2 separate regions of the Homo sapiens genome follow, and region 1 is linked to region 2. Evidence: fine-mapped QTL for protein levels in blood plasma. A gene starts in region 2. The other region holds a variant in brackets. All regions are shown on one strand. Distances are between the middles of the regions.

Region 1 (11,986 bases), 14 kb after region 2:
CTGCGGAGCTGCCTCAGAACTTAATCTATTAATAAATAAGAATCAGAAAGCTAATTTCATAAAATTCAGGCTTCATATTTGCAGCCCAAATTGAGAGGAAAGTGGAGGCCAGAGGGCTGAGGTTTATTGCTTCTCCCCCAGCATCCAACAGGAGATGTGAGAGGGCACCCGAGGCCCACTCTTCAGACTCTAAGAAGTTCTTTTGGTCCATGGTCTACACCAGAGCCCCAGCCCCTAGCATAATTGCATACCTGTGGTTTCACCAGGGCCTAGGCAGAGGGAATGATGGGGAAGGCAGGAAGCCTATTCTGGAACCCCTGGAACAGGGAAGCAAGGGCCCCTCTCTAACAGGGGGAGAAGGATGGGGCTCAGCCTTCTCTTGTGCAAAGTCAAGGGCAGTGGGAAATGGGGAGTACAGCTTCATCTCAAAACTGGGATGAAGGAGCCTTCCCTGTAGTCCCTGCCCACGGGGTTTACACACATGCACACGCACACGCACACACAGCTAAGACACCAAACACGGGGAGTGGGGAGTGAGGGCTCTGGAGGTCAGGATGGCAGGGCAGGGAGGGGAAGGAAGGAGTTGTTGGTCTCACAGTGTGCCTGCCAATCCCAAAGCCCTAGAGACCCCTTCACTGCAGCACCTGCCCCCGGGTCTCAGGCAGCTTCAGGGCCAGAGAGCTGCCAAGGGCAAGGGCAGCTGAGGCAAAGAGGATGGGTGCAGCCTTGGTGATTCCCACGAAGGATGTGAAGATGCTGATCCCCAGCACAGCTGCCAGCTTACACAGGGCATTCAGGAAGCCAAAAGCTGTGGTCCTGCTCAGGAGTCCCCCAGTGCAGCACGGCGCAAGGTACAGGAGGGAGGCAAAGGAAGAGTGGAGGGCAGGGAAGTGAAGTCCAGGAAGATGCAGGCAGTGTCCAAGAGGGAGAGAGAAGGTTGGAGAGATCAGAGAGGTAAAGGATGTACACCAGGAATGTAAATAAATTGAGAGACAAAGGGAAAGGAGACCAAAAATTGAGGTTAACAGTTAAGACTTTGAGGAGTAGATACAAAAGCTACCAGATTTTTTTTTCCTTTTTTTTTTTTTTTGAGACGGAGTCTTGCTCTGTTGCCCAGGCTGGAGTGCAGTGGTGCGATCTCGGCTCACTGAAAGCTCCACCTCCCGGGTTCAAGCAATTCTCCTGCCTTAGCCTCCTGAGTAGCTGCGATTACAGGCACCCAGCTAACTTTTTGTATTTTTAGTACAGACAGGGTTTCACCATGTTGGCCAGGCTGGTCTCAAACTCCTGACCTCAGGTGATCTGCCTGCCTCGGCCTCCCAAAGCACTGGGATTACAGGCATGAGTCACCGTGCCCGGCCAAAGCTACCAGATTTTAGAGGAGAAAATGGAAATGTATATCCTCTCACCCCTAAGGATGCTCTTCCCATTCAGCCCTCCTTCCTCACCCCACCCCTCCCCTGAATCCACTGCCCTGCCTCCAACACATTCCAACTACCTCTTGTCTGAGGGGTAGAGTTCAACAGTCAACACGTCCAGCGCATTCCAGGATGCAATGCTGACCCCGCCAAAAAGGCAGAGCAGAGCGATCATGGCCGACTCACTGTTCCCAAAAGACAGGAAGAAGCAGGAGACACAGGACATCACGCTGGAGCCAGCTGGAGCCAGGAGAGGAGAGAGCAACATGAGCCTGGCCACAGTGAAACCCACCCACAGCCCACCCTGTCCCATCAGCTGGCTTTCAGATAGCCCAGGATGAGACTTGTTCCGAAGGTATCCAACCAAGGTATCCAAAAGGAAGGCTTTTCACTCCTCCTCAACCTCCCTTATAATTGTTTATTAATAATATCAGTAACCATCATTTATTCAATGCCAGCCATGGGCCAAGGCAATTGATGCTTTACATGCATTGATCTAGCACATCAACCCTATGACACAGGTACTATTATCACCTCCATTTTGCAGAGGAAACAACCAGGCTCATAGAGGTAATTTGCCAGAGGCCAGAGGCAGGTGGTGGAGCTGAGATTCAAAACCCATAACCTCAAAGCCTGTGCCCTAACCACTTGCAATTCTGCTTACCTCCTTTACCCCCAGAGAAGCTTCTGTGCCAGTCCCCACCCCATCCTGCAGCACCCCCTAAACAGAAAACATGAGAGAGGAACTCTCTGACCAATCTCTTCCACAGCCCAAGGTGAGAAGCCTGTTGACTGCCTCCCGCAGCCCCTGGCCCCTACTATCAGATCTGACTCAGCCTCTCCCCCTTACCAAGCATTCTGAGCCTGCCGATCTTGTCCATGAGCAGGGCAGACACGATATTCCCAGGAAGCACTGCCAGTGTCCCCAGGAAGCTCACAAAGTATACCATGTAGGCACCTTCGCCCGTCCCTGTCACGTCTAGCGGGCAGCCCTCCTTGTTGTGCAGGAATGTACTGTTTATCAGACGGCTGTTCACAAACTTGTACTCGAACAGGTCTGTGGGCAAAGGCCAAGATAAGCAGGCAGTCATAGCAGATGGGAGAGGGAGGCTGTTACGGCTTATGGCTCAGGGCTCTGCATGTATGAAAGTTAGTAGGAGGGGCTCTCAAAATTATTCACAGTGCTAATCACAAAACATCAAATAACATCACCATGGGAACTAGGGATCTTTAGAGCAGAAAATGACCATCATCTGTCCAACAGTGTGACTTTGTCCAAGTTCTCCCATTAATAGTCTTAGCTGCTTATTCATTCTTTCTGTCCGTGCTAGCTGACTATAAGCAGTAGCGATGCCGTGGACTTAGGAAATTTTTCTGAGAAAAACATTTAAAATAATAAAAAGTCCTATCCATTGTTGTTTTCCTGCAACATGGAAAAAGCTCGCCCAGTATGAGGTGGGAAATTTCAGTCTAGCTCACAAAACCAGCATTTCGTGTGCATATACTGAAGTTTGAGAATCACTATTAAAAAGGAGTGGATTCATGCAATGATCCGCACCAAATACCCCTTTTATTGATTGTTTTTCTTTTTCCCAAGAATGCTATTTTGGATGATTTTTACCTTCTTCAAAAGTGCATTAATTTTACCTCACTGAGTTATAATTTCAGCCAAAGGCAAATAAACTTGATGTTTTTGTCAGATATTCTATTACAGGAAAATGTCCAACATCCATTAGATTTTCAGAATTATTGGTGGTAGCTATCAGGCCCCTCTGCCACCTTCCCACAGGGGTCCAGGGATCTCAGCTTGAGAACCCTAAGATAGTGAATGAAAAAGGTTCCTTCTCATCAAGGTCCACCCAACCCTTTGGTCTGACACCCACCAGCCACCCCGCCTTACCAGTGTTATAGAACACAGTGTTGATGAATGTGCAGTTGCGGAAAAACGTGTTGCTGGATGTGACATCCTCAAAATAACACTCTTCAAACAGGGAATCCTCAAAGGACACTGACTTGAGCCGCAGCCCAATGAACCTGTAAGGCCAGGATGGTGAAAGACACTCCCCCGTCATCCTCATGCCCCCTCCAAGACTCACTCTTTAGCGAAGTAATGGGAAGCTGGGCATTGAGAAGAAACCACAAGTGTTTGCCCCCCAAATGTCTTGTCTTGAACCCCTAGACTCATAAAAGAGACGAGGTAGAAGGAACAGGGAAGAAGTGAAGTTTAAAAGTCCCCACATACTTGTCATTGAAGTACTGCCCGCCTCGGTGGATCTGATTCTCCAACGTGAAGTTAAAAGTTACATGCTCTACGCGCTCCCCGGGGAACACTTTGGTGCGGGATGCGTAGTCCACTGCCTGGAGATGGCGGATCATGTCAGGAAACCAGACGGTCAGGCCATAGTAGCTGAAGAGTCAAGGACAATGGAAACAGACAACAGGGCTTCAGACAAGGCTCAGAGATTAGAATCAGGCAGAGGAGAAAACGGAAATGTGTATCATCTCAGAACAAGGGAGAAATGGAGTCAACCTCTGTTAGGACCTTGCTCCTCTCCAGCCTCACCAGCTTCTCCCTGCTCCTCCCTTCAACAGTTGCTGCGCTCCTGGGGGACTTCAGGGTCTCGCACAGCAGCCACTATACTTTTTCTTACCTCCCAAGCATTTGCTTTTCCCTCTGCCAAAAACACTCTTCTCCACCCCAGCCACCCCCACTCCACCTGTCTGACTCCCATTCACCTTTGAGGACTTAGGTCCCCACCCCAGCCCAAGCCCCAAGTGCTCCCACTGCCCTTCCCCCACCCTTCTCTCATCACCCTGCTTCATAGCAAGTTTCGTCTCACTTCTTTTTTTTCTTTTGAGACGGAGTCTCGCTCTGTCACCCAGGCTGGAGTGCAGTGGCGCGATCTCGACTCACTGCAACCTCTGCCTCCCGGATTCACACCATTCTCCTGCCTCAGCCTCCAGAGTAGCTGGGACTACAGGCGCCCACCACCATGCCCGGCTAATTTTTTGTATGTTAGTAGAGACGGGGTTTCACCGTAGCCAGGATGGTCTCGATCTCCTAACCTCATGATCCGCCCGCCTCGTCCTCCCAAAGTGCTGGGATTACGAGCCTCATCGTCCTGCTTCTTAACCAAAACATAAACTCCAGGAGGACCTTGGACCACATCTGTTTCATCCCAGCACAGAATAGAAACTGAATCCTGGTCAGCCTACAGTACAAGTTTGTTGAGTGAACTAGCGAAGTAGAGGAGCTGGCTGCAGGATCAGAGGGGGTCTGCATGGCACCTTCCCTCATCGCTTGTCCCCTGCATCTCCATTCTCCCCACCTCTCTCCCAGCCCACACACCACCACAACCACCACACATCACCCAGCCCACCCATCTCCTCACCTGAATGACATGGTGAACCACACACCCATCATCATCAGAGTGATGCGCCGATATTCGGGACCAAAACAGGAGAGAAAATTCCCCCAAACCTACAGGGGACCAGACAAAGTCAGACCTTGACTATACTAAGTTCTAGCACCCATAGATCCCCACTTTTCTGCCCTCCCACCTCCCTTCAGCTCACCCATCACCCACACACATAGACTTCAGTCCTGCCTTCTTCTCCACTTCCCCCACTCCCTTCTATCTACCACCCCGTCCACCATTACCTGCCCCCCTAGGCTCAAGGCCCGGACCCCCCAGCGCTGGTACCAGGTCCCTGTGTCCGACTGGATCTCAATCAATTCATCCTCCTGATGAATCGTCTTAATGTGGGTTACCTGGGGTCAAGAGAAGGGGTGGGCAGTCACACACTCTGTGTTTCCCAACATCGGCCAGGCGCCTCAGTTTCCCCTGCATTAGCAAAATGGGAGGCAGGAGGTGGATATGATACCCTGAAAATCTCCTTACGGTAGAGTGTGGTCTGAGGTGGGGGGTACTCAGAGAGGGGCCAGGTAGGGGCTGGGGCTGCAGGGCGTGGAGGTCTGAGTCGGGAGGGCTGTGGCTTACTGAGAACACTCGCTCAGGATGTCCTTTGGCTCGCATGTTGGTATCATGGACCTGCTTCAGCACCATCCAGGCCTCATCATGCTTTCCATTCTAGAGCCAAAGACACAATCCCCACATCCAAGTCAGCCCCTACCTGACCCAGAGTTATAGACCCCCTCCCTCCCACCTGGCTTCTGTAGTCACAGGACACTAAATGGTTCCCAGCCCTCAACCCCACCACCAAGCCCTGACCTATGGGCATGCACTCACCACTCTGAAAGAGCCCCAAGCTGAGGTATAGCAAGACAATCAGACTTGGGCAAGAGCTGCGGGTTGGGGGTGGGGAGTGTTGTCCAGGGGAAAAAGGCAAGCACAGGTCTTGGGAATTCCATAGTACAGAGGAATGTAAAAACCAAAGGTAAGGGAAATGATGGGCAAGCATGTAGTCAAAGACCTAATCCTGCTGGGGTTAGGAGGGGAAGGTATAGGGGGTGGGAATGTCTCTTGAGCTGTAAATGCAGGACAGGGCCAAGGCCCTTCCCTGCAAAATCTTAAGTCATCCATGGGT[A/G]AAGAGGTCCCCTGGTTTCTCCACCCAAGAACCCCTCAGGGACACATTCCAAGGCAAAGAATGCAAGATAAAGTCCCCTGGAGAGTGGACTCTGTGAGGAAGGCAGGCAGTCAAACAGGATCAAATCAAACTCCAGTTGGTGTTTGAACACAGAAGCCCCTGCTGCCGTCCACACTCCACAGCCCGCACCCCACCCCACCCCATGCAGCTCAGCCCCATCACCTCTAGGAAGAAACGGGGGCTCTCAGGCTGCGTGGTCAGAGCCCCAATGGCAAACACAGAAGGAAAGGCGCAGACGAGGACGAAGACCCTCCAGCTGTGGAACTGGTAGGCAGAACCCATCTGAAAACTCCACCCTGGTAGGGAGAAAGTGACAGCATCAGCAGAGAGGCCAGAGGCTGGGGGAACCCACCACAGGGAGCACAGAAGAAGAGGGAGGAGGGAGATAACCTGGGGTGGATTTCCGGGGGCTGCTCACCATAGTGGGGGATGATGGCCCAGGCCATAGCAGCTGCGTACACGCCACCAATCATCCAAAACATGCAGAGCCAGCTCAAATGCTCCCCTCGTTTCTCCTGGGCCAGAAACTCGGAGAAATAGGAGAAGACAATGGGGATGGACCCTCCAATCCTGAAGTGCATTTCAAGAATTCAGCATTAGCAAATGGCCATAGTCCTGATCCCCTGCCCCACTGCTCTGGACCCCGAGCCCCTTTTGTCTTCCAGGCTTTTGAAGAGACTCCATCTCACACATAAAGCCTTACAAGCTCCCATGTGGGCCAGCCATCAAGCACCCATCCTTGGGACCATGGGAAACAGGCAAGCGAGTCTCAGGGAAAGGGAAAGAGCAAATCTTAAATCTTGAAAATGAATTACAGAGTTGGAAGGGCGGGAAAGTAATTGCAGAAAAGAGAATAAATCTCCAGAGAAAAAAGACAAGCCAAAAGCCTCCAAGGGCAGATGTTGTGGGAATGGCCAGAAAGGAGCTTGGAGTTGAAGCAGAGTAAGCGGGCCTGCCATGCTTGCAAAAGTGAAGGGGCAGTGCGGACAAGGCGTCAGGGTTCTGGCAGGTGTGGGTGTTAGCAAGGTTTGTTGTGTAATGCAGGAAATGTGTAGACTCTGGTAGGGGGTAACTCTGGGTCCACAGGAGCCCAGGGGTGGGGCTGAGGCCCACTAGGCCTCTTTGTGGAGGCAGGCTCAAAAATGGAACTAGAGGTGGGGTGGAGGACTCAGGAGTGGGCCAAGGAACAGCATTCTGGACAGCAGCAGACAGGTCCTGGGCAGGGAGGAGCTGGCCTGAAGATGGCTGGGGGAGAAAGGAACTCATTCATCCGTTCAACTCACACAGATTTAAGGTGCATTTGGTGTGCCTGGCACTGTGCTGGGCCCTAAAGATACAACAGTGACCAAGGCACAGTCCTGCCCTCAAGGGACTTAGGAAGTGTACACTCACCCAACCCCAGAAAGTAGGCGGCAGAAGAGGAAAGTGCCGTAACCCTGGACAAAAGATGAGAAGAAGGCGAAGACGCTGTTGACTGAGAGCGAGATGAGCAGACACTGCCTCCGACCCAGCCGGTCAGCCAGACCTCCCCAGAGGAAGGCTCCCACCATCATGCCCAGGTAGACGATGAGGCCTGGAAGGAGGAGGAAAACAGGCAGAGGGGGTGTGAGCAGACACACCTTAATTCTCCCAGGAGATGAGCACTGAGGGAGCTGAAGGATCTGAAAAACTTCTAGAAGGTAAGTCTACCCAGAGATTAGAGCAAGTGAGAGAAAATGAATGGTGTAAGCAAAGATAGAAGATCATCTCTGCAGGCCAGGGGTTCAAAGGCAGGAATGAAGATATGGGAGAACCTGCAAACTCTCCACTCTCTTCGGTCTGTCTCATTTCTCACTCTGACACACACACAGTGACACCTTTACCCCTGGCTCACTTTGAAGGAGGAATGGGTGTGCCTAGGATCACAGACCACCCCAGGGTCCTCTCTATTCTCCCTGCTTTGATCCCTCAAAGCAGCAGGAGAGCTCTCATTTGTTCCTGGGGAAAGGGGCTCCAATTCATTTCATCTTCCCAGGAAATCTCCCACACAAAATCCATCCTTTACTCCTTCCAGTCTCAATATTTCTGGTCCAAAAACTCTCCTGTTTTTCACTGCCTTCATAAAACCAAAGCTGGAATTAATCTTTAAAATCATCTACTCCAAACTTTGCATTTTCCCATGCCCAAACCAAGCCCCAGGAAGAAGAGACCTGTCCAAGACCCCATGGCAATTTGGTGGCAGAGTAAGGCCTCGATTCTTTCTCTGTGAGTCTACGGGGTTCCTCCTCAGAGTCCCTGTCAGGAAAGGCCATCAAAGACTACATCCTGTCCCCTGGAAACTCCCATCTGAGTGAGAGAAAGTCTAACCAGCTTCTCTGGCAGAAGATCCAGGACCCTCCCCCCCTCCCCCAACCACCCCAAACTGACTCTCCCCATTTATACCAAGGAGTTTGGATACTGGCTTCTTGTTCCCCAATCAGTGAAAGGGAACAGGATAACCAGAGGGAAAGCTATGAAGAAACATTAAATGGTAGGGACCATCCTACCACAGCCACCTCCTGCAGAATGAAGCAGACCACCACCCAACCACTGGCCCAAGCCCCAGTCCAGCTGCCCTCCCGCAAGCCCCTCTGTCACATTCAACTTCACCCTGACCCAAGGCCAAGAAGAGGGAGTGTGTGAGGGAAGAGTGTGCAGAGGAACCCTGAGCCCTCTGGGAACATCTTGGGTGCAGGGTCCTAGGGAACCCAGTGGTAAGGACAAGAGCAATTTCCAGGAGCAAGGAGGTTTCCAGAGTTTGAGGGGATAAGGCTGGAGCCCCCCATGTCTTACCTAGCATGCCTTTGTTGGAGTCGGACAGGCACATGTCTTTCTCAGCGCTGGGCAGCACGAAGCCCACCACAAAGACCTCCACACCGTCAGCCATCAGCGCCAGACCAAGCACAAAATACAGTGTCCACTGGAAGCGGCCGTGGCCACACTCCCGTAGGATGGCTTCATACTGTTGGGCCAGTTCTTCTCGTTCTTTCCGTCGTTGTGCCTCCCCCCGGCCCCCAGGGGGACCCTCCCCATCACTCAAGCCCCCCCTTACTCCAGCCAGGGGCGCCCCATCTGCCATCCGCTCGCCTTTGCCCCCAGACTCTGCCCGGGGAATGCCCTGATATTCCCCTTCATAGATCTCATCATCCTCGTCATGGCCCTCAGTAGCATCACTGGATGCACCACCTTCCTCCTCATCCTGGGTCCCTTCTCCTCGGTAATAACCATCACTGGGAGCAGGGAAGTCATCATCATCATCCTCCTCCTCAAAGCGGGAGTACGATCTTCGGGAATATTCGTCCTGGACTCTGTCCAGGCCCTTCACCACCTTCTTGGCCGCATGCTTTTTGACTTCCTTAGCAATGTCTTTGGCCCCACGGATGAAAGCTGCCCGGTCTCGGAAGCCCTCTTCCATGATGGGGCTTGGGGCACTTCACTGGGTCTTCTCCACCTCCTGCTTCTTTTTCAGCTTTTTGCTCAAGGACTTGTAGAGTCAAAAAGACCCCTCCCCACAGTTACTTAGATGAAGCGTGTTCCAGTATCTCTGGGCACAAAAAAAAGAGCAAACAGGTCCTAGCCAATGAGTGCCTAGGAAGGAAAAGGAAGGAGAGGAGCTTTGACCTATACCCAGTTCAGTTGGGTGGATGGGGAAGGGACAGGGGGAGCAGGGGAATGGGAAGGGGAAGGGGAGCCAGATTGGGAGGCTAAGCCAGGATAACTCAGGAAGGGTCGCCTGCTTCTCTTCCACAAGCCTCTGGAGACCTAGAAAAAATAACAGACAGCAAAAGGAAGTTGTGAGTCCTAAGGTGGTGAAGAAGGCCAGTATAAAGCCTCTCAACCCAGAGCCCCATCTGGACCATGTGGTGCAGAGATGGTCTTCTCGCTTTAGGCTCCCATCCACACACTAAAAAGGGATGGCTATCTGGGCTAACCGGGTCACTCACATAGAAGTCCCCTTACTTTGACCTTGGAGGCCTGGCCTGTGGAATTTGCTCCAAAGTCGCAGTCACCTACCCCCAAACCCACCCCAGCCCTTGCTTTATCACCAATCTGCAAAGAACTAAACAGGAAATATGAGAAACCAGAATTCCCTTCTTTAGTCTTGCCTGGGTTTCTTACTAGGGGTGGAGTTGAGGAGGATGTGTAAGAGGACAAGCCCTCCAACCTGTGGCCTTCCCTCCTCTGATGGCATCTGAAGGCAGGGGCTTCCACTGTCCTTCCCTCAGGTCCCATGTTTACAGGCTTCAACAAGGAGGGATTTTCTCTCAACATAGTCTAATGGGTAAATGCTCAGCTTCCAGAGTCACAAAGACATGGGGTTGACTTCCTGTTTTGGCAAATACTAGCTAAGGGACCAAGCCTCAGTTTCTTCTTGTTTAAAAAGGGGAAAGTAAGGGTCGAATGATATAATGTATCTATGCTCCTTACCATAAGTCACCTGGCACATAAAAATGATGAATAAATATTAATTATTAATTTTGTGGTGACAGTAATATAGTGAAATGCCCTATACTACCTCATAAGGTCCCCAGATGAAAGCTATCTTGGATGCTCTTTAGGGTGAGCAGCAGGAAGGGACACTGGCAAGGAGAATCCTGGTTCAGGGCAAAGCACATGACTGTTAGGGGTGACCTAAGTTGAAATCCCAACTCTGCCACTTACTAACTGATCTCAGTCAGGGTAGTTAACCTCCCTAAGCCTCAGTGTCCATCTATTTTAACTGGGGATAATTAAATTGGGAGACTGTTTCTTGGAGTTGATGTGAGAATGTAATCTCACAGTAGATACTCTATGTTAGTTTTCTTCCTTCCTATGATGTTGAAAGTGGGAAAGAAACAGGAAGCAGCAAGGGACAACAGGGGGGTCATACTTAGATGCTGTTGCCCAGCATCCTTGCAAACAGAGTCCCAAGACACCCCTATCTATGTTTCAACTAATTCCAGTAGCTGGGCCCACATTAACTACCTCCAGAAGAACAAGGGAAGATCCAGAAAAGGGGGACCTGGAACCCAAGTAAAGTGGAGGAAAGATGGAAAGCTAAGAAAGAGGTGATGACTGTCCACTGCCACCTTGCTTCAGAATGTCATAGATAGGCCCCCTTTCCACAGATGGGGGTGAGAATGGAAATGACTGTCAAATGCATACATTTCCAACATGAGGTTCTAAGGCCTACAGTTGCATCCCATCCCTCCAGGGCCTCCCTTCCTAATCCCCCTTAATCCTTTCTGCTCCTCCTCCAGGAGTCAAGGAAGAAGGAGTCCACAAACACCGCATTGCGTAGGAGGCGGATGTAGAATAAAGGGGGTTTGGGTGTCCCCCCAAAAAAGACATTCTCCAGAGGAAGGCATGGGATAGCCCCCTTCCTTCATAGGAGCAGAGGAAGCAGGCCTAGATTCTGATCAGAAATCATCCCCCTAAAAATATCCTGCCTCCGGTGCTCCCACCCATCCAGGGCCTTCATTAAAACACACACACACACACACACACGCACACACACACACACGCCCTGGTAGAAGACGGTAAGCAATGCTATGTGGTTCAGAGAGAAGCACTGGCAAGCAGCGCCTTATCCCCTCAGGACAGATGTAAGCAGTGGACCACGGTGACCAGAAGCAGTGACCCCTATGTCACCTTTTCTTCATGGTTCAGGGCCCAACCATCCCCCATGAAAGAGCTGGAACTGCGGAATCCCCTCAGCGCATGGCAATTTGCTAGCTTTCCTCTCTTTCCTAACCAGGATCTCCCCTCCAGCCCTGAAGGAGGCAGGACCCACCAGGAGCCATACTCTATGTTTGTTGACCCTATTTCCCCCTGAGAGGGGCACGTAGGGCAGGGAAGCCTTCCACAACCACAGCAGGATATGAGGTCTCAACAGCCAGCTTCCTCAGGGCCAGCAAGCCCAGGAGGTCAGGAGAGAAAGAAAGAAGACAAATTCTTTGAGC
Region 2 (8,000 bases):
TGGTAAACAGAATGATGGAAGATAGAAGCTCATCAGTTAAATAAAAATAATACAGGCCAGGCACAGTGGCTCACACCTGTAATCCCAGCACTTTGGGAGGCCAAGGCAGGTGGATCACGAGGTCAGGGGTTCGAGAGCAGCCTGACCAACATGGTGAAACCCCATCTCTACTAAAAATACAAAATTAGCTGGGCATGGTGGTGGGCACCTGTAATCCCAGCTACTCAGGAGGCTGAAGCAGGAAAATTGCTTGAACCCGGGAGGCAGAGGTTGCAGTGAGCCGAGATCGTGCCACTGCACTCCAGCCTGGGTGACAAAGCGAGACTCCGTCTCAAAAAATAATAATAATAATAATAATAATAATATAGCCTACCATAATACGGTTGCTGGAATAAAGGAGAATAAATGTAAATAACCTAGTAGAGAGCTTGGGAACCTGAGAGGCCCCACAGCTAGATTAGGAGGATATGATGGTTCATTTTATGAGTCAACTTGCCTAGCCCAATAGCTAGTAAAACATTTTCTGGGTTTTGTTTTTGTTTTTTGTTTTTTGTTTTTTTTGAGACGGAGTTTCACTCTTGTTGCCCAGGCTGGAGTGCAATGACGTGATCTCGGCTCACAGCAACCTCCACCTCCCGGGTTCAAGCGATTCTCCTGCCTCAGCCTCCCAAGTAGCTGAGATTACAGGCGTGAGCCACCATGCCTGGCTAATTTTGTATTTTTAGTAGAGATGGGGTTTCTCCATGTTGGTCAGGCTGGTCTCAAACTCCCGACCTCAGGTGATCCGCCCGCCTCAGCCTCCCAAAATGATGGAATTACAGGCATGAGCCACCACGCCTGGCCCATTTTTCTGGGTATTTCTGAAAGAGATTAGCATCTGAGGCCGGGCACGGTGGCTCACACCTGTAATCCCAGCACTTTGGGAGGCCAAGGCAGGCGGATCACCTGAGGTCGGGAGTTCGAGCCCAGCCTGGCCAACATGGTGAAACCCCATCTCTACTAAAAATACAAAAAATTAGCCCAGCGTGGTGGCATGCACCTGTGTAGTCCCAGCTACTCAGGAGGCTGAGGCAGGAGAATCGCTTGAACCCAGGAGGTGGAGGTTGCAGTGAGCCATGATCGGACCACTGCACTCCAGCCTGGGCAACAGAGCGAGACTCTGTCTCAAAAACAAACAAACAAAAAGTAATCTATGGTGATAAAGGTTAGAATAATGAGACTAATGATTAACTGTGGCAGGGTAATACTGACTTCCCTGGAAGTCTTCTGAGGTGCTGGGAATTTTCTTTATCTTGATATAGGCATATTCATATGTAAAATTCAGCTCTACATTTAAGATTTATAGGGGTTTTTTTGTTTGTTTGTTTTTGAGACAGTCTCCCTCTGTCACCCAGGCTGGAGTGCAGTGGCGTGATCCCAGCTCACTGCAACTCTGCCTCTCGGGTTCAAGCCAATTCTCATGCCTCAGCCTCCCAAATAGTTGGGATTACAGGTGCCTGCCACCACGCCCAGCTAATTTTTGTATTTTTAGTAGAGAGGGGGTTTCACCATGTTGGCCAGGCTGGTCTCGAACTCCTGATCTCAAGTGATCCACCTTCCTTGGCCTCCCAAAGTGCTGGGATTACAAGCGTGAGTCACCACGCCCGGCCTAGATTTATAAATCTCTTACATGTACATCATACCTCAGTAAGCACAATTTTTAAATATAAACAAAATTGAAGGAGTCATCATGGGGAAAACAATGAGTACTTTGTTGGGCATCCCAATCCTCATGTTACAAATGAGTGTTTATTATTGTTTGGTTGTTTTGTTTAATTGTGTATGAGGTGGCTAACATAATCTCTCGGTGCTTAAAGCCTCTAAAAGCCTTAATCTGACCACGACAGACCTTCATTAAATAGTAGATATTATTATGACTATATTTTTATTAGAAACAAAGACAATAAGCTTGCCCTGTGGAGCTCGCAACTTGCAAAGCTTTCGTTTATTTTTACGACAGCAATAATAGTGAAGTTGCCGTCTCCATTCATACATCAATTCACTCATCCATCCAATATATCTTATTGAACACCTAAGTATGTCAACACTGAGCTTGGCATCACACATCTAGAATATAGTGAATATACCATTCATTGTGCCTGGATCTCTCTTTCCACGTGGTTAGTTCCCTCTAGTCATTCAAATTTCTGTTTCAATGTTACCTTCACACCTAGGCTTTCCCTGACCTCAGCCTCCTACCTCTGCCTAACACTGTCACTGGATTTGCAAACTGCAAGGTCCTAACCAAAGCAGGTCCTATAGATGCCATCTTTGTAGCAGCTTTCTAATCAATGTACTTCTCTCTAGCCCATCTCGTGCCTTCACTCAGGTTATCTTTCACCCAGACTACCAACAAAGACTTTTCTACTCCTCTCCCTGCTTCTACTCTTCCCACTCCTCACCAGAGTGGCCTTTCTAATAGACATTCTGATTCTTTTCTCACTGTACACTCTCTCCCCAGGTGATCACATACCACACCCCAGCCCCACCCCCATGATCTCATTTCATCTTCAACAACCCCTAACTAAGAGATGTCTCAAATATACTTCTCACATGCTAAAATTAGTGGGAAAAAACTTAATGAGAATTAGGAAAGTAGATACACTTAGAGTATCTTCCACAATTACAGACAGAAAAGGAATTTTATAGTGGAAAAGCCTGACAGATACCATCTTAATCAAGTGATCAGAACTATCACTAGTAATAACAAAAAGATCACGTGCCCTGGTAAGGTTCACAGAGAAGAATTCAACATTACTTCTGCAGTATTCCAGCCAAAAATGCATGTGCTAAATTTTAATCATAAAGAAACATCAGACAAACCCAGATTGAGGGACATTCTACAAAATAAATGTCTGTAACTTCAAAATTACCAAAGTCATGAAAGACAAAGAAAATCTAGGAAACTATTTCAAGTTAATGGAGAACAAAGAAATATAACAACTGAATGCAACACGTCATCCTAGATTGGATCCTGGACCAGAAGATATTTCTTTTCATTTTATATATATGATAGTAGTGGAACAATTGGCAAATTTTGAATAAGGTCTGTAGATTAGATAATAGTACCGTATCTGTGTTCATTTCTAGAGTCTGACAGTTATATTCCGGCTATGTGAGAAAATTTTTTTTTTTAAGTAAATATACATCAGTCAGGATTCTCCAGGGAAACAGAACGAATGGTAGATATTTTGATAGATAGTTTTATTATAAAAAATTGGCTTTTTGATTATGGAAGCTAATAAATCCCAAGATCCCCAAGATCTTCAGGGTAAGTTGGCAAGCTGGAGACCCAGGAGAACTGATGATATAGTTCCAGTCCAAGTTCAAAGGCCTGAGAACCAATGGTGTAGTTCCAGTCCAAAGGCCGAGTCTAAGACCCAGATGGAGCCAGTGTTTACTTCTGAGTCTGAAGGCTGAGAAAAGCCAATGTCCGGGTCTCAAAGCAGTCAGGCAGAAGGAAGTCTCTCTTACTCCGGAGTGGGTCAGTCTTTTGTTCTAGTCAAGCTTTCAACTGGTTGGATGGGACCCACCTATATTAGGGAGGGCAATTTACTCAGTCTCCAATTCAAATGTTAATCTCATTCAAAATACTCTCACAGAAGCACCCATATTTGGCCAAATATCTGAGCACCAATCCTCTAGAAGTTGGGACATTAACCATCACAGGCCGTGCGTGGTGGCTCACGCCTCTAATCCCAGCACTTTGGGAGGCTGAGGTGGGTGGATCACCTGAGGTCAGGAGTTTGAGACCAGCCTGGCCAACATGGTGAAACCCCCCTCTCCACTAAAAATACAAAAATTAGCCAGGCGCCATTGTCCACGCCTGTAATCCCAGCTACTCAGGAGGCGGAGGCACAAGAATCACTTGAACCCAGGAGACAGAGGTTGCAGTAAGCCAAGATTGCATCACTGCACTCCAGCCTGGGCGACAGAGTGAGACTCCATCTCAAAAAAAAAAAAAAAGTTAACCATCACAGGTAGAGTTTAATAGGCTTTATCTCTGAAACTTAGTCTCAAACAGTCCAGAAAATAATTATATATTTGTAGATAGGTACATACAAATAAAACAAACAGTGAATTGTTAATATTTGGGTAATCTAGGTATCAGGATAAAGGATATACAGGAATTATTTGAACTGTTTTTTTTAACTTTAGATGCACAAACCTTGTAATTATCCTTGACACTTTCCCTCCCACAACCAAGCCATTACCACACCCTGTAGGTTTTACTTTCCTAATATACATCCTGTAGCCACAATTTCTCTCCATTTCCACCACCACCACCACCACCTTGGTCCAAATCATCATCATCTCTCACCTAGACTGCTACAGTAACCTCCCAACTTGTCTCCCTGTTTCCACTCTTGCCTCCTCTACAATCCATTCTCCACCCTGAAGCCAGTGATCTTTGCAGAATACAAACTTAAAGTCAGCTAAATGCAATGCATGATCCTTGATTGGTTTCTGAAAATTAAACATTTATAATGTTTACTTAGACTGTGCTGCTATTACAAAATACCACTGACTGGGTAATTTATAAACAGAAATGTATTTTCTCACAGTTCTGGAGGCTGGGAAGTCCAAGATTACGGCACTGGCAGGTTTGGTATCTAGTGAAGGCCAGTTCCTCATAGATACGCCATCGAGGTGACCTTACATGGCAGAAGGGACAGAAGGGGCCAACTTACCCCCTCAAGCTCTTTCAAAAGGCGTTAGTCCATTCTTGAGGGTGGAGCCCTCATAGCCTTATTACCTCCTAAAGGCCCCACCACTTAATACCAACACCATGGATTAATTTTCAACATGAATTCTGGAGGAGACATATTCAAACTATAGTAGACACCAATGAGACAGTTGGGGAAATCTGAATATCAACTGTATGTGATTATAGTATTGTATGAATGTTAAATGTCTTGGATGTGGTAATGGTATTGTGGATATGTATGAAAATGTCCTTGTTCTTAGGAGATACACATTGAAAGTACATAGCAATTAAGTGTAAAGAATTTTGTGGGGCCAGGCGCAGTGGCTCACGCCTATAATCCCAGCATTTTGGGAGGCCGAGGCGGACTGATGACCTGAGTCAAGACCAGCCTGACCAACATGGAGAAACCCCGTCTCCACTAAAAACACAAAATTAGCCAGAGTGGTGGCGCACGCCTGTAATCCCAGCTACATGGGAGGCTGAGGCAAGCAAATCGCTTGAACCCAGGAGGCGGAGGTTGCTGTGAGCCAAGATCGCACCATTGCACTCCAGCCTAGGCAACAAGAGCGAAACTCCATCTCAAAAAAAAAAAAAAGAATTTTGTGGCTGGGTGCAGTGGCTCACGCCTGTAATCCCATCACTTTGGGAGGCTGAGGCAGGCAGATCACTTGAGGTCAGGAGTTCCAGAGCAGGAGGATCACTTGAGGTCAGGAGTTCCAGACCAGCCTGGCCAACATGGTGAAACCCCATCTCTACTAGAAATGCAAAAAAATTTAGCCAGGTATGGTGGCACCAGCCTGTAGTCCCAGCTACTCAGGAGGCTGAGGCAGGAGAATCACTTGAACCCAGAAGGTGGAGGTTGCAGTGGGCCAAGATGGCGCCACTGCACTCCAGTCTGGGCAACAGAGTGAGACTCTGTTTAAAAAAAAAAAAAAAAAGAATTTTGGGCCAGGCGCAGTGGCTCACGCCTGTAATCCCTGTAATCCTGGGTGGCCGAGGAGGGTGGATCACCTGAGGTTGGGAGTTCCAGACCAGCCTGATCAACATGGAGAAACCCCGTCTCTACTAAAAATACAAAATTAGCCGGGCATGTTGGCACATGCCTGTAATCCCAGCTAATCAGGAGGCTGAGGCAGGAGACTTGCTTGAACCCAGGAGGCAGAGGTTGCAGTGAGCCAAGATCACGCCATTGCACTCCAGCCTGGGCAAGAAGAGCAAAACTCCATCTCAAAAAAAAATAAATAAATAAGATTTCTGCACCTAACTCAAGTGATTCAGCAGAAATAATTATTATTATTTCATTATTATTATACACACATACATTAAAAGAGATACAAAGCCAAGTCTGGCAAAATCTTATCAGTGAACCTAGGTGAAGAGTGGATAAATGGGTTGCTCATTGTATTAATCTTGCAAATTTTCTGGAAGTTTTAATTTTTTTTAAAGGCTAGGGAAAACAGTGTATGTCATAGTTTAAATTTCTTGAGTGTGATAAGGTTATTGTGGTTATGTATGAGAATATCTTTGTTCTTAGGAGATACATATTGGAGTAGTTAGGGGTGAAATGTCATGCTATCTGCAACTTACTTTCAAATGGTTCATCCAAAAAAGCATATAAATATATTTTAAAGTATATGTAAAGTACTTAAATATATGAGTATATATGTACAAGTATAAAATAAATATAAATGCAAAAAATGGTGGGTCAAGTGAAAGGTAGAGGGTGTTGCTTTGAACTATTCAACTTTTCTGTGGCTTTGACATTTTTCAAAATGAGAAGTTGGGGAAAAACATTTAGAAATATGTAAATATATTAAGGATACAAAATAAAATTTAAATAATTTTACAAGTTAAGAATCATCCTGGAAAAATTACATCCTGTTACATCCCTGCTTAAAACCTCAGTAGCTTCCCACTACTTCTAGGATAAAGACAAAATTGCCTAACAAGGGCTACAAGGCCTGGGGTGGTCTGGCCCGTTCCTCTCCTCCTGGTACCCTACTCATCACCATCAGCTGCCCCCTAGGCTCCAACCACACATAACCACACCCTAACTACACCAGAAGGAAAGACTCCCTCAAAATTCTCTCTCCTCCTGTCCTTTACACATGCAGCTACCAAAGCCAAAACCTCACTATGAGGGACTGAGAAATGGATTCTCATGTTGTTTCTGCTGAACTGTTTCCCTAAATCTCGGAAATATTCTCTGCCCGCCTCCCATTCCACCTCTCCAACCCCGGCCAAGTCTGGGTAACTTGCCTCCTTAGCATCCTGTGTTTATCTCATCGTAGCACCTAGTACCCAGTATTGCAATTGTCCGCTCACTTGTTAGTCTTCAGTGCTCTGTTGTCTCCTTGAAAACAGGGCCTGACTTGACTCCCCAGTCCCCAGCACTAGTCTGGGGCACAGTAATTATGTATTCAATCAGACTTCCATTTTCTTGCATATAAAATAAAGGAGTTGGGCTGGATGATCTACAAGATCTATTGGCAGTAAAATAGATCTAATAATCCCAATCCCAACTGCGCGTGAATTCCCTTTTTCTTTGCATTGCTGGGTTCAGACTTTCTGACCACCTTACCAGTGGGGAGAATCCGAGACTACAGTTCCCATGAGCCCTCAGGGCACCACGTGGTGCCTGCCCGTGCTACCAACGCGCAGCGAGGACTCCATTTCCCAGCGTGCCTCAGGAAGGGCGCCAGGACTGCATTTTGCTCCGGAGCGTCCAGAGTCCTGGCCCTGAGCGGGAATCGCAGTGGCCGAGGCTGAGCGGCAGGTAGAAGGGGCGTCTCCGGGGCTTCACAGGGAACACAGGGGCTTCGGCCCAACCACAAGTACGCAGTTGCACATGCCCTACTTTTGCCCATTCTTTGCAAATCCCCTAAGGAACGAACGCGCCTCGCGTGCGGGCCTTTCTAATCTTCGCTTGTCCCTTCACTTCCACAGCTGGAGGTCGAATTCACCACGTCACGTAGAGAAAAGGGGCGGTGTCTCGGGTCTCCCCGTGTGGCATCAAGGCGGGCTCCCTATAGGAGCTGGTGTGGACGTCCGGGCGTGGGGTTAGGGCGGATGCGGGGATCGCGGGGCGGGTGTTGACATTGTGCTCTCACCAGGCGGATCGCCCCGACCCTCACTCCTGGCGTCTGAGTCTCTGGCGTAGCCCATGCTGAGTGGGCGGCTGGTCCTGGGTCTGGTCTCCATGGCTGGCCGCGTTTGTTTGTGCCAGGGCAGCGCGGGATCCGGGGCCATCGGT

Direction of the effects. Positions count from the first base shown, and alleles are read on the strand shown. Strength reflects both the effect of a copy and how common the allele is.
For the plasma level of the protein whose gene starts at base 7,419 in region 2, G is the low allele of the variant in region 1 and A is the other (strong association).

Evidence for each region. PIP is the chance, under the fine-mapping model, that this variant and not a neighbour inherited with it causes the effect. The UK Biobank Pharma Proteomics Project read protein levels with antibody pairs (Olink). The fine-mapping took linkage between variants from a reference panel, not from the people measured, so its PIPs are less certain.
Region 1: its variant is fine-mapped to the plasma level of the BOLA1 protein (UK Biobank, PIP above 0.99).

Annotation. Positions count from the first base shown.
Region 1 is chr1:149,904,382-149,916,367 of GRCh38, forward strand. It overlaps SV2A (synaptic vesicle glycoprotein 2A), which reads right to left. Exons shown (of 13, transcript NM_014849.5): 2 at 8,838-9,806; 3 at 7,419-7,599; 4 at 6,445-6,596; 5 at 6,189-6,322; 6 at 5,420-5,509; 7 at 5,080-5,190; 8 at 4,811-4,899; 9 at 3,661-3,825; 10 at 3,319-3,452; 11 at 2,269-2,475; 12 at 1,499-1,658; 13 at 1-816. The coding sequence starts at 9,459. The coding sequence ends at 633. Among named protein-coding and RNA genes, the nearest start is that of SV2A, 7.5 kb to the right of the region's middle. RefSeq lists enhancers at 5,796-6,297, 6,298-6,797. The variant A/G (reference allele first, on the strand shown) is at 5,967.
Region 2 is chr1:149,892,150-149,900,149 of GRCh38, forward strand. It overlaps BOLA1 (bolA family member 1), which reads left to right and starts at 7,419. Exons shown (of 2, transcript NM_016074.5): 1 at 7,419-7,523; 2 at 7,861-8,000. The coding sequence starts at 7,911. LOC124904412 (a long non-coding RNA gene) reads right to left here and starts at 7,399. Exons shown (of 2, transcript XR_007066597.1): 1 at 7,329-7,399; 2 at 3,227-3,572. RefSeq lists an enhancer at 7,453-7,512.